Regions from separate parts of the Homo sapiens genome. Here region 1 is linked to region 2. The links come from fine-mapping of genetic effects on gene expression. A gene starts in region 2. The other region holds a variant in brackets. All regions are shown on one strand. Distances are between the middles of the regions. Region 1 has its middle 18 kb from the start of MYMX. Region 2 holds the start of SLC29A1 (solute carrier family 29 member 1 (Augustine blood group)).

What was found. PIP is the estimated chance that this variant, and not a neighbour inherited with it, causes the effect.
Region 1: its variant is the best candidate, but not a certain one, in a credible set for the expression of SLC29A1 in aorta (GTEx, PIP 0.85).

The regions. Positions count from the first base shown.
Region 1 is chr6:44,196,696-44,202,063 of GRCh38, forward strand. It overlaps a transcript of MYMX not described here. Among named protein-coding and RNA genes, the nearest start is that of MYMX, 18 kb to the right of the region's middle. RefSeq lists enhancers at 3,858-4,858, 4,859-5,368. The variant A/G (reference allele first, on the strand shown) is at 2,210.
Region 2 is chr6:44,221,335-44,226,702 of GRCh38, forward strand. SLC29A1 (solute carrier family 29 member 1 (Augustine blood group)) reads left to right here and starts at 2,261. Exons shown (of 13, transcript NM_001372327.1): 1 at 2,261-2,307. RefSeq lists enhancers at 2,090-2,948, 3,191-3,340 and a silencer at 2,101-2,500.

The sequences.
Region 1 (5,368 bases), 25 kb before region 2:
TGCCTGTAATCCCAACACTTTGGGAGGCTGAGGTGGGCGGATCATTTGAGGTCAGGAGTTCAAGACCAGCCTGACCAAAATGGAGAAACCCTGTCTCTATTAAAAATACAAAATTAGCTGGATGTGGTGGCACATGCCTGTAATCCCAGCTGCTCAGGAGGCTGAGGCAGAAGAATCGCTTGAACCTGGGAGGCGGAGGTTGCAGTGAGCTGAGATGGCGCCATTGCATTCCAACCTGGGTAAGAAGAGCAAAACTCCGTGTCAAAACAAACAAACAGGTTGGGCATGGTGGCTCATGCCTGTAACCCCAGCATGTTGGGAGGCTGAGGAGGGCAAATCACCTGAGGTCAGGAGTTCAAGACTAGCCTGACCAACATGGCAAAATGCCATCTCTACTAAAAATACAAAAATTAGCCAGTAATCCCAGCTACACCAGAGGATGAGGCAGGAGAATAACTTGAACCCAGGAAGCAGAGGCTGCAGTGAGCCGAGATCGAGTCACTGTACTCCAGCCTGGGGGACAGAGCAAGACTTCATCTCAAAAACAAACAAACAGGCTGGGCACGGCGGCTCACGCCTGTAATTCCAGCACTTTGGGAGGCGGAGGCAGGCGGATCATTTGAGGTCAGGAGTTCGAGACCAGCCTGACCAACATGGTGAAACCCCATCTCTACTAAAAATACAAAAATTAGCTGGGTGTGGTGGCAGACGCCTGTAATGCCAGCTCCTCCGGAGGCTGAGGCAGAAGAGTCGCTTGAACCCAGGAGGCGGAGGTTGCAGTGAGCTGAGATCATGCCACTGCACTCCAGCCTGGGTGACAGAGTGAGACTCCGTCTCAAAAAAACAAACAACAAAAAAGCACCACCTCTCCTTCCAGTACCCTATGACTTGCCACTTCTCAGGAGTATGATGTGGTAACTCTTTCTGGGTATAGTTTGCAGTTCTCCATTGTCAGGGATAACTAGCTTTTCACATTTATGGATTACTTACTCATGTTTCAGGAGATTGCCACCTCTGATCCTTTGTTTCTTTTTCTGTCATTTTCTTATTGATTATATTATATTATGTTTTAATAAAGACAGGGCCTCACTATGTTGCCCAGGTTGGCCTTGAACTCCTGGGATCAAGTGATCCTCCTGCATCACCCTCCCAAAATGCTGGGATTACAGGGGTGAACTACCACTCCTGGCCCTATTGATTATAAAAGTATGTTACTTGTAATTGATACTAAATCTTTTTCAATTATATGGACTGCAAATATCTCCTTCCAGCCTGCGGGGGATTGTCTTTTCACTTTGTAGTATCTTTTGTAGTATCAAAAGATCTCAACTTACTATTGAAGCTAGGTGGCTCATGCATAGGAGTTTATTATACTATTCTCATAATTTAAAAAATTGCCATAACAAAAAGTTTGTAAGAATCTATACAACACATAATTCTCTACTATCCCAAATTCCTCTTTTTTTTTTTTTTTTTTTTTTTTTTGAGATAGAGTCTCGCTCTGTCACCCAGGCTGGAGTGCAGTGGTGCGATCTCGGCTCACTGCAACCTCCGCCTCCTGGGTTCATGCCATTCTCCTGCCTCAGCCTCCCGAGTAGCTGGGACTACAGGTGCCCGCCACTACCACGCCCGGCTAATTTTTTATATTTTTAGTAGAGATGGGGTTTCACCGTGTTAGCCAGGATGGTCTCGATCTCCTGACCTCGTGATCTACCCGCCTCGGCCTCCCAAAGTGCTGGGATTACAGGCGTGAGCCACCGTGCCTGGCCTATCCCAAATTCCTAAAGATCTGTGCCTATATTTAATTTAATTTATTTACTTATTTATTTTTTTGACAGTCTTGCTCTGTTGCCCAGGCTGGAGTGCAGTGGCGCAATCTCAGCTCACTGCAAACTCCACCTTCCAGGTTCAAGCAGTTCTCCCACCTCAGCCTCCCCAGTAGCTGGGATTACAGGCACCAGTGCCTATATTTTATAGTTTGACTTTATACATTTAGATCTCTAATGCCACCAGAATTTTTTTTTTTTTTTAAGTTTTGGTCTGTCGCCCAGGCTGGATTACAGGCGTGCACCACCATGCTCAGCTAATTTTTGTATTTTTAGGAGAGACAGGGTTTTTCCATGTTGGTCAGGCTGGTCTCAAACTCCTGACCTCAAGTGATCTGTCCTTGGCCTCCAGACATACTGGGATTACAGGCGTGAGTAACTAC[A/G]CCTGGCCCAGAATTTATTTTTGTAATTGATGTGCCAGAGGATCAAATCTTATTTTTCCTTTTGGGGATGGCCAACTGTTCCAGCCCTATTTCTGACCATTTTTGTCCCTTCACTGACCAGCAATTCCCCCTCTCCCCTACATGTTCTTGGATCTGTTTCTAATCTCTCTATTCTGTTCCTTAGTCACTGTGTCTATTCTTGCATTTTGCCACACTGTTTTCATTCCCATATTACCAGATTGGCCAGATTGGTATCTATAGGGCTAGTGCCCTCTTATTTTTGTTATCTTTCTTTCATTATTTATTTTAGAGACAGGATCTCACTCCAGTCACCCAGGCTGGAGTACAGTGGTGCTATCATGGTTCACTGTAGTCTAGACTTCCCAGGCTCAGGTGATCCTCCCACCTCAGCCTCCCGAGTAGCTGGGACTACAGGTGTGTGCCACTGTGCCCCCTAATTTTCTTTTGTATTTTTAGTAGAGACAGTTTCATCATGTTGCCCAGGCTGATCTCGAACTCCTCGGCTCAAGTGAACTGCCTGCCTCGGCCTCCCAAAGTGCTGGGATTACAGGCGTGAGCCCCCACGCCTGGCCCCCCTCTTCTTTTTCTTCTTCAGCATTAACTTGGTTATTCTTGGTCTTTTTTTCCCATATAAATTTTATTTTATTCTTTTTTGAGACTCCCATATAAATTTTACAATCAGCTTCCAGAAAGACAAAAAACACAGATTGGTGGATTCTTGGTCAGAGTTGCATTGAATTTCTAATTAATTTGGGGGAGAACTAATTTTTTTTTTTTTGAGACAGTCTCTCTCTGCCACCCAGGCTGGAGTCCAGTGGCATGATCACTGTTCGCTGCAGCCTCAATCTCCCGGGCTCAAGCCATCCTCCCACCTCAGCCTCCCAAGTAGCTGAGACTATAGGAGTAAGCCATCATGTCTGGCTAATTTTTGTATTTTTTGGTAGAGACTGGGTTTTGCCATGTTACCCAGGCTGGTCTCAAACTTCTGGGCTCAAGCAATCCAAGCGTCTTGGCCTCCTAAAGTGTTGGGATTACAGGCATGAGCCACCGTGCCCGGTCAGAACTAACATCTTTATAACAATTATAGCCAGGCACAGTGGCTCATGGTAGCCTGTTCCTGTAGTCCCGGCTACTCAGGAGATTGATGTGGGAGGATTGCTTGAACTTAGGAGGTCAAGGCTACAGTGAGCTATGATTGTGCCACTGCACTCCAGGCCTGGGAGACAGAGGAAGAGCCTACCTCTTAAAAAAAAAAAATTATAACATAATACTTTACTGACCATTACCTTGCCTCATTCACTCAAATATTCAAATATTTAGGTCTTCTTTTTTGGTTTCTCCATAAAAAATTTGTTTCTCCACTGGGGTCTTGCCTAGTTTTTTTTATTTTATTTTATTTTTTATTTTTAGACAGAGTCTTGCTCTGTCACCCAGGTTGGAGTGCAGTGGCACGATCTGGGCTCACTGCAACTTCTACCTCCCGGGTTCAAGCAATTCTCCTGTCTCAGCCTCCCAAGTAGCTGGGACTACAGGCGCCTGCCACCACACCTGGCTAATTTTTGCATTTTTAGTAGAGATGGTGTTTTACCTTGTTGGTCAGGCTGGTCTCAAATTCCTGACCTCAGGTGATCCATCTGCCTCAGCCTCCCAAAGTGCTGGGATTACAGGCGTGAGCCATCGCGCCTGGCCATCAGGTTTTTATTAGATTTTTTTCCCTGTGGCATTGTGGTTTTTGCTGCTCTCCCTCCCCACATCAGATATGCTAGGCATGTCCTTCCTTACCTTCTCCTCAAGCTCCTCTGTCCACCCTCATCCCTCTCACTGTCCAGGAAACAGCTGTCTCCTGCCCCAACAACTGACTGTTCCCTCTGAGGCATTGCCAGAGAGGGTAGGGCCCCCACCTCCCACCCTCAGGGTCCTGTCAGCTGAGTGGGGGGTGGGGGGCAGTGGGCAACAGCTGTTGCAGTGGGGACAATGGCTGTATTCTATACAAGCTCCTTTCCTGGGCCACCTCCTCCTCCCTGGCTAGAACAACTGTTCTTGTGGATTGGGGAGTCCCATCTGTCTGTGCTAGCTACTCTTTCAGGCAACCTCCAACTCCCTGGCCCATTTTGCTCATGTCTTACAGGCATATCCAGTGTGTGTCCCACTGCCCGGTCGCCTGTGCATGGGTCTATCATTGCCTGGAATTGGTGGGCAGAGGAATGATGGTCATGGATAAGGGACCATCCCTCCAAAGCGCATCACCTCTTCTTTCAGTGGTCACATTCAGGCCCTAGCTCCTCACTCAGGTAGGTGGTTTCTGGCCTGTTGTCCCAGGCAGAAAGGCACTGTGATTATGACAGGGCTGAGCTCCCAGTTCCTGGGCTAGAACTCCGCCCATTCCCCACCCACACTGCCTATACCTGGCTGGCTCTGGTTCCTGGCCCCAAGGTCTCCCCACCTGCTCCTTGGTAACATCACCCCTTGACACACCCTGCCCTTGATGAGGCCTCCCTGGCTCCTTGTCAGAACTCCTTGTTTAGGGGTCAGAGCTGTCCTCAACCTCCCACAAACAGGAAGGGCCCCACACCAATGCTGATTTCCCAGAGGACAACAGGCCAGTGAAACATGACAGAGCGAGGGGCCACAGCCTCCGCAGGCCTCCCTTGATTCTTCAAGCATTAACAGAGCCCCAGCCTCTGATCTAAGTGCTGCCCATGAGCAGCAGGGTGCCTTGCATCAGGCCTCCAAGGAGCAGCAAGTTCTCTGCTGGCCTCTGACATAAGGGTGGAAGGAAGGAAACTAATATTTATGAGACACCTACCTGGTAGCCAAACTCTGAGCCTCACATTCTCCTCATCTCTTTATCTGGTCAGCTGTAGGTATTATTATAATTCCCATTTTAGGGAGGGGGACCACCCCATAGCACAGCTCCGGAAGGTGCCACTCTCAACTCCCGCTGTGCAATATACAGCCTGCTCTGGCATCCAGAGGGGCCCTGAGAGAGGGTCCCAGAGCCAGCATGTGGTTCCAGAGCGACCAACTCAGAAGCACCTCCAGCCAACTTCACGAGCTGGGACCCAGACACATGTTTTTAATGCAAGTCATGCGGAGGCAGTGGCCTGTCGCAGCATGCTCTTGAGCGCCTGGGTGGAG
Region 2 (5,368 bases):
ACATGTGCTGGTTACCAACCCCCAGGCCAAGCAAACACACTTCCAGCAAACACACATGACTTGTTGGTGACAGCTGAGAGGACACATGCCTGGGGAGAGAGAGGACTGTGTGTGAGGTGGTGAGGCATGCATGGGGCCTGCCAAGTTGGGGAGGGAGTCTGGGCCAAGCCACGGTCCCATATAGGGTGGTGAATAAGGTGTAGAGTAGAGGTGCAGCAGGACCAACCCTTCCCACCCCACCCCTTCGACAGGGACCTGAGGGAGCTCAGGGAGGGAGAGAAGCCAGAAGACCAGGCAGAGACTGAAGAGAGCTGGCAAGGCCTGGCTAGAAAAACTCCAGGCAAGGCCTGTGTAAGTTGGGGCTCCCAGGCTGTCCAGCAGGGGGCCCTGGCACCCAGCAACCTCTGCTTGGGAGGTGGCTACAGAGGGGTGTGGGTGTTGGCTAGGGGCCCAGCAGGATGGATGCCAGACGGACTTCTCTCCAACAATAACAGCCCTGGCTGTTGCCATCCACCGAGCTGGCAGGGCCCCAGTTTGGGTGGGGAGAGGAACCAGCCTTTCCCAGTCTGGCCTGAGACCCTCACCACTTCCCTCCAGTTTTCTTCCACCTCCAGCCCCCTCTGTACACAACTGCAGCCACTGGCCACCAGCCTTGCCATGCCTGGCAGATCTTCTGACCACTAGCCCTGCCACCCCCACAGACCCAGAGACCAGGAAAGGAGGGTGGGGAGCGAGGAAGGGGGCCAAGGCAGAGGGCAGAGGAGGGCTAGGAGAGGAAGAGAGAGAGACTGGACAAACATGAGGGCAGGAATTAGGGGGTTGTGGACAGACATGAAGCCACTCTCAAGTCATGGGGCTGTGCCTGGAAAAATACCACCTAAACCCATCTTCCTGCCCTCTGGTTAGGGCTGGCGGGGATGTGGGGGATGGGGGTGGGGTGGGGGAGGGTTGGGAAGGAATATGTGTGTCATCTCTGTGGGGCATGGAAACAGAAGGCTGGGGACACCCATTCTGGAGTAGCTTGGGGAGAGCCACTGACCCTAATTAGAAAAGCCACCTCTCTCCTTAGGGCCCTGTCTGTTTCTCTGGGGACAGGGTAGGACTACCTTATCCCTATGATGTGAGGTACTGCCAGTTGTTAATCAGTGTCTGTGGCTTCTCTAGGGGACAAGCCCTTCGGGTCAGTGGGCATGGGGTGGGCAGCGTGGGTTGGATTTTCTCCTCAGGACCTTTCCAGCCTTAGGATCATCCTCTAGCACTGAGTACTGCTGGAAGGGCAGGGAGTGCCCCCCACCCCACCCCATTTATTGCCCGACCAAAGAGAGGGCCTCCCTCCCCCTCCCTTGGAGGGACTTGCTGGACCACCCCTCAGCACGCCCACACCTTCCTCCTTAGCTAGTGAAAGACATACTCAGCAAGGCTTCCGCCTGTCAGGATGGCTGGGACAATAGGATTCACTGAGGATATAAGGCTGTTCCTAGCTTTTTCTCTTCCCATTCCCACCTGTGCCTCAGTTTTCCAAAGTGCTGGATTTAGAAAGGGTGAATTATGAGGGAGCTGGAGGGCTTTGCCCCACCCCCCTCCGCGCGCACACGCAAGCACAGGCAGAGGCACATACCCCCTCCAAGTCAAAGTTGTGAGTGGGGTGGTGTTTGCGCGTCTGTGGCTGGGACTGGATGTGTCAGGGATGGGAAAACCCATCATGCTGGTCACAGAAAATGCGCGGTGGGGACAGAAGCAGTTTTGAAGGAAAAGAAGAGGAGGGGGACTGAAAGAAAGAAGGGGGCGCTGAAAGGGAGGGCGCTGGGAGGAAAAAGGTGCAGTGTGGAGGAAGCGCGGCGTGGGCAGGGCTTGGGAAGGGATAACGGAATATCTGAGGTGGAGTGGGCCGTGGAGCGTCGGGGCCGGTCTGAGCAGCGGGTGTGTAAATGGAACAGTCCCGAGATGAATTTTATGGGAGTCTGCGCAGGTCCTTAATGTGTGGCTGTACCCTCCAGCCCCATGTACCCCACACGATGGACAGACAGCCTTGGTGTGGCAGGGCCCAAAGAGGTCCTATCTACCGCAATAACACGACCAGGCGGCCCTGGGGGCGCAGGGGCTCGGGGTGGGAGCGGCGGAGCGCGCGGAGTCGCCGCGGGGTGGCAGGGGTGGGCCGGGGGCGGGGCCGCGGGCGTCGGGGAGGTGGCAGTGGGCGCAGGGCGGGGCGAGCTCAGCGGAGGGCGGGTTTGAATGTGCCCCGGCGGGAGAGGGAAGCTGCAGCGAGAGCGCGCGGATCTCAGCGCGGGAGCAGTGCTTCTGCGGCAGGTGCTGCCCGGGGCCGGGGACTGGGGACTGGGGACTGCCGGGGCGGAAGACGCCGCTGCCCGCCTGCCACGGAGGGCAGGGAGGGCGGGCCTGACGGCTCCGCAGCCCGGAGAAGGGACGCCGGGTGGGGCCCCAGTGCGGAGCGTGCGGAGCCGCGCAGCACGTGGCGCGCACGGGCCAGGGAGCCTGAGGACCCTGCGGGGACCGGGACCCAAGCTGGGCGGGGCGGCCTGGCTCCCGGGCCTAAAACAGGCTGCGGTCACGTTGACCTCCGCAAGGGGCAGGCGAGTGGACGGGTGATCCCCATCGATCTGGTCGGTATCAGGGAGGGGCCGTGCCGCTGACTGCGCTGGCGGAGGGGTATGGGGATGGGGATGGGGATGGAGGCTCGCGAGCGGAGGTGCAGGCTCGCGAGCGGAGGTGCGGGGCTGTCTCTTTAACCCCGGTCTTTTACTGGCTAAACTCGTATCCCTGGCGTCTCCTTCCTGCGCACGTCTTCATTTACTGATTTACTGTGAGGGTATATGAGAGGGTGAAGACAAACAGTCCTCGGCTTTGCTTACCAGGAGAGAGCAGTCGTAGGTCAAGGCTGGCTCCAACCCTGCCCTCACACCTCTAGGGGTCTCTCTGCAGCCCTGTGGTAGTCCCTTTGCCTACTCCTCTCGGTGGCCTCCAGACCCTCCAACTTTCCTCCTGCTTGTGTAAGCTCCCCATGCCAGGATGTGTGTGATGGGGCGGGGCTGAGCTGCCTGACACTCAAGTCAGGCTGGGAATGATCTTGGTCTCCACCTCATTTTTCCCTTTAGTTGAATCAGAGTTCCCCCCACCTCCCAGTCTACAGGGCTAACTGAGAAGCAGCTTTTATACCTCTCTCCATTCCAAAAGGAGCTTGAACATTTAATATGGATTCTAGCTCCTCCACTCACCAGCTCTGTGACTTCAGGCAAGTGACTCAACCCCTCTGAACCTCAGCTGGCCCCATCTATTCAGTGCTAGTACTAGCTTATGGGTGGTTGTGAAGAAAAGACAAGAGATCTGCAGGTAGTGGCTAGCCCCATATGAAATCCTGGGAGTGGAGAATTGCAGGAGAGGTGTTGGGAGTCTGGAGGCAGGGAGGTACTCAATTTGGTGGCTACTTTCAGGGGCCCACCTCAGCAGGCCAAGGCATAGTTGGAGGGACACCAGATGCTCTGAGCTGGTATCAGATCCCTGTTTGCCGCTGGGCAAAGGCAGACAAAAGCAAAACACGAAGGCTGGCCAGCTGAATGTTAGGATATGGGCAGGAGGAGAGGGCTGGAGTTGAATTGTGCCCAAGACTGGTATGGGAACTCCTGAGAACAGAGAGAGCAGGGGTGTAGCAGGGGGCCAGGGAAGAAATAAATACTTCTTCTCTAAGCCTAAGCCAGTTTTACCCAGGAGAACAGGAGCTATTCTCCCCACCCTAGGCCCCCATCTGCTTTGAAGCTACACCTGCTCTTAACTGCCAGGAATCTTGCCTGTGGGGTGGAGTACGGGGTATGCGGGTATGAAGTAAGAACCTAGAGGAAGAGTCCCTACTACCTAATAGAAAACCTGAGACCTAGGCAGGGCTCAGTGGCTCATGCCTGTAATCCCAGCACTTTGGGAAGCCAAGGTGGGTGGGTCACCTGAGGTCGGGAGTTCGAAACCAGCCTGGTCAACATGGTGAAACCCTGTCTCTACTAAAAATACAGAAATCAGCCGGGGGTGGTGGCAGGAGCCTGTATTCCCAGCTTCTTGGGAGGCTGAGGCAGGAGAATCACTTGAACCTGGGAGGCAGAATTTGCAGTGAGCCGAGATCATGCCATTGCACTCCAGCCTGGGCAACAGGAGCAAAAACTCCGTCTCAAAAAAAAAAAAAAAAAGAAAAAATCTGAGACCTGAGGCTTTCCCCCACCCCCACTCCAGTAATGCCCTCTTGCCTTCATCTCTCTAGAAAATGTAAATATGATTATTCACCCCTCGTGCCTAGGACAGTGCCTGGCTAGCATGCACAGGTCCTCAGTAAATATTTGTCGAAGGCCTGAATGGAGGAATCCTTCTGCCTCTATCTGGAGGTGTGGGGCTGAGGGGCTGAGGAGGACCTCTGAGAGCTTGGAGTTTCCCTGGGGAGGGTTGAGAGGAACTACAGGGAGGTGGGAGAGCCCGTGGAAGGTCTCATGGTGCCCAGCTGCTTCTGTTTGTCTGAGTGGGGCCAGAAGCAATGCTGCACCTGCGAGAGCTCCCCTGCTGAGACTCCCTGTTCTCTTATCTCCCGAGCGACAGGGGTGGCTTTTTATCTCCTGGGTGTGCTTCTGCTTCTTTGCTTGCAAGGCTTCTCAGAATGGGGCCCCATGAAGCCTGAGGGACTCTCTCCTGATAACACCCTGTGCCACCTTTTTCATTCTGGATCCGCACCCAGGAGCCCGTGGACAAGGCCCACTGCCTGAGCCTGAACTAGGAGCACCTCCTAGGGACTGCCCAGGCTTGCTCTGCTCTGACCCTTCTGCTGGCCAGTCTGGGCACCTGGTGAGTGCCCAGAAAGGGAGGGAAGGGAAGCTGTCCTTTCACCCCAAACAGCAAGGCCTGGGCCCAGCTAGGCCTGAGTGTGGGGAATGTGTCAGTGCACATCTGCCTGGCTTCCCATGCCACCCAATGGGAAAGCTGTTTAATCTGCTGGTGCCAGGGGGTCTCCCCCTACACAAATGGGGAGCAGGAGAGGGACGCTGAGGCAGAAGGATAGGTGCTTTGGGATCCACCCCTCCAATCTTCTTTTCAAGGTCACTCTTAGAAAGGGGAAGCGGACAGGAGCCTGTGACAGAGAGGAACTAAGGGAGGACTAGGTGACCCTGGGGTCGGGAGGGGGGAGGGGGAAGGGCTGTGCCCCCACATCCATTATGAAATATTTTCTTGGAAAACCGGCCAGCAACTAGGAAGCCCCTGGGCAGTGGCTGGAAAGAAAGGTTAAGGTGCCAACAGCAGAGAGACTGGAATCTGGGTTGCCTTCAGGAGAGGACAGCCCCACTCTAGCCATGAATCCAGGGGCTCCCCAGGGAGGGTGGAG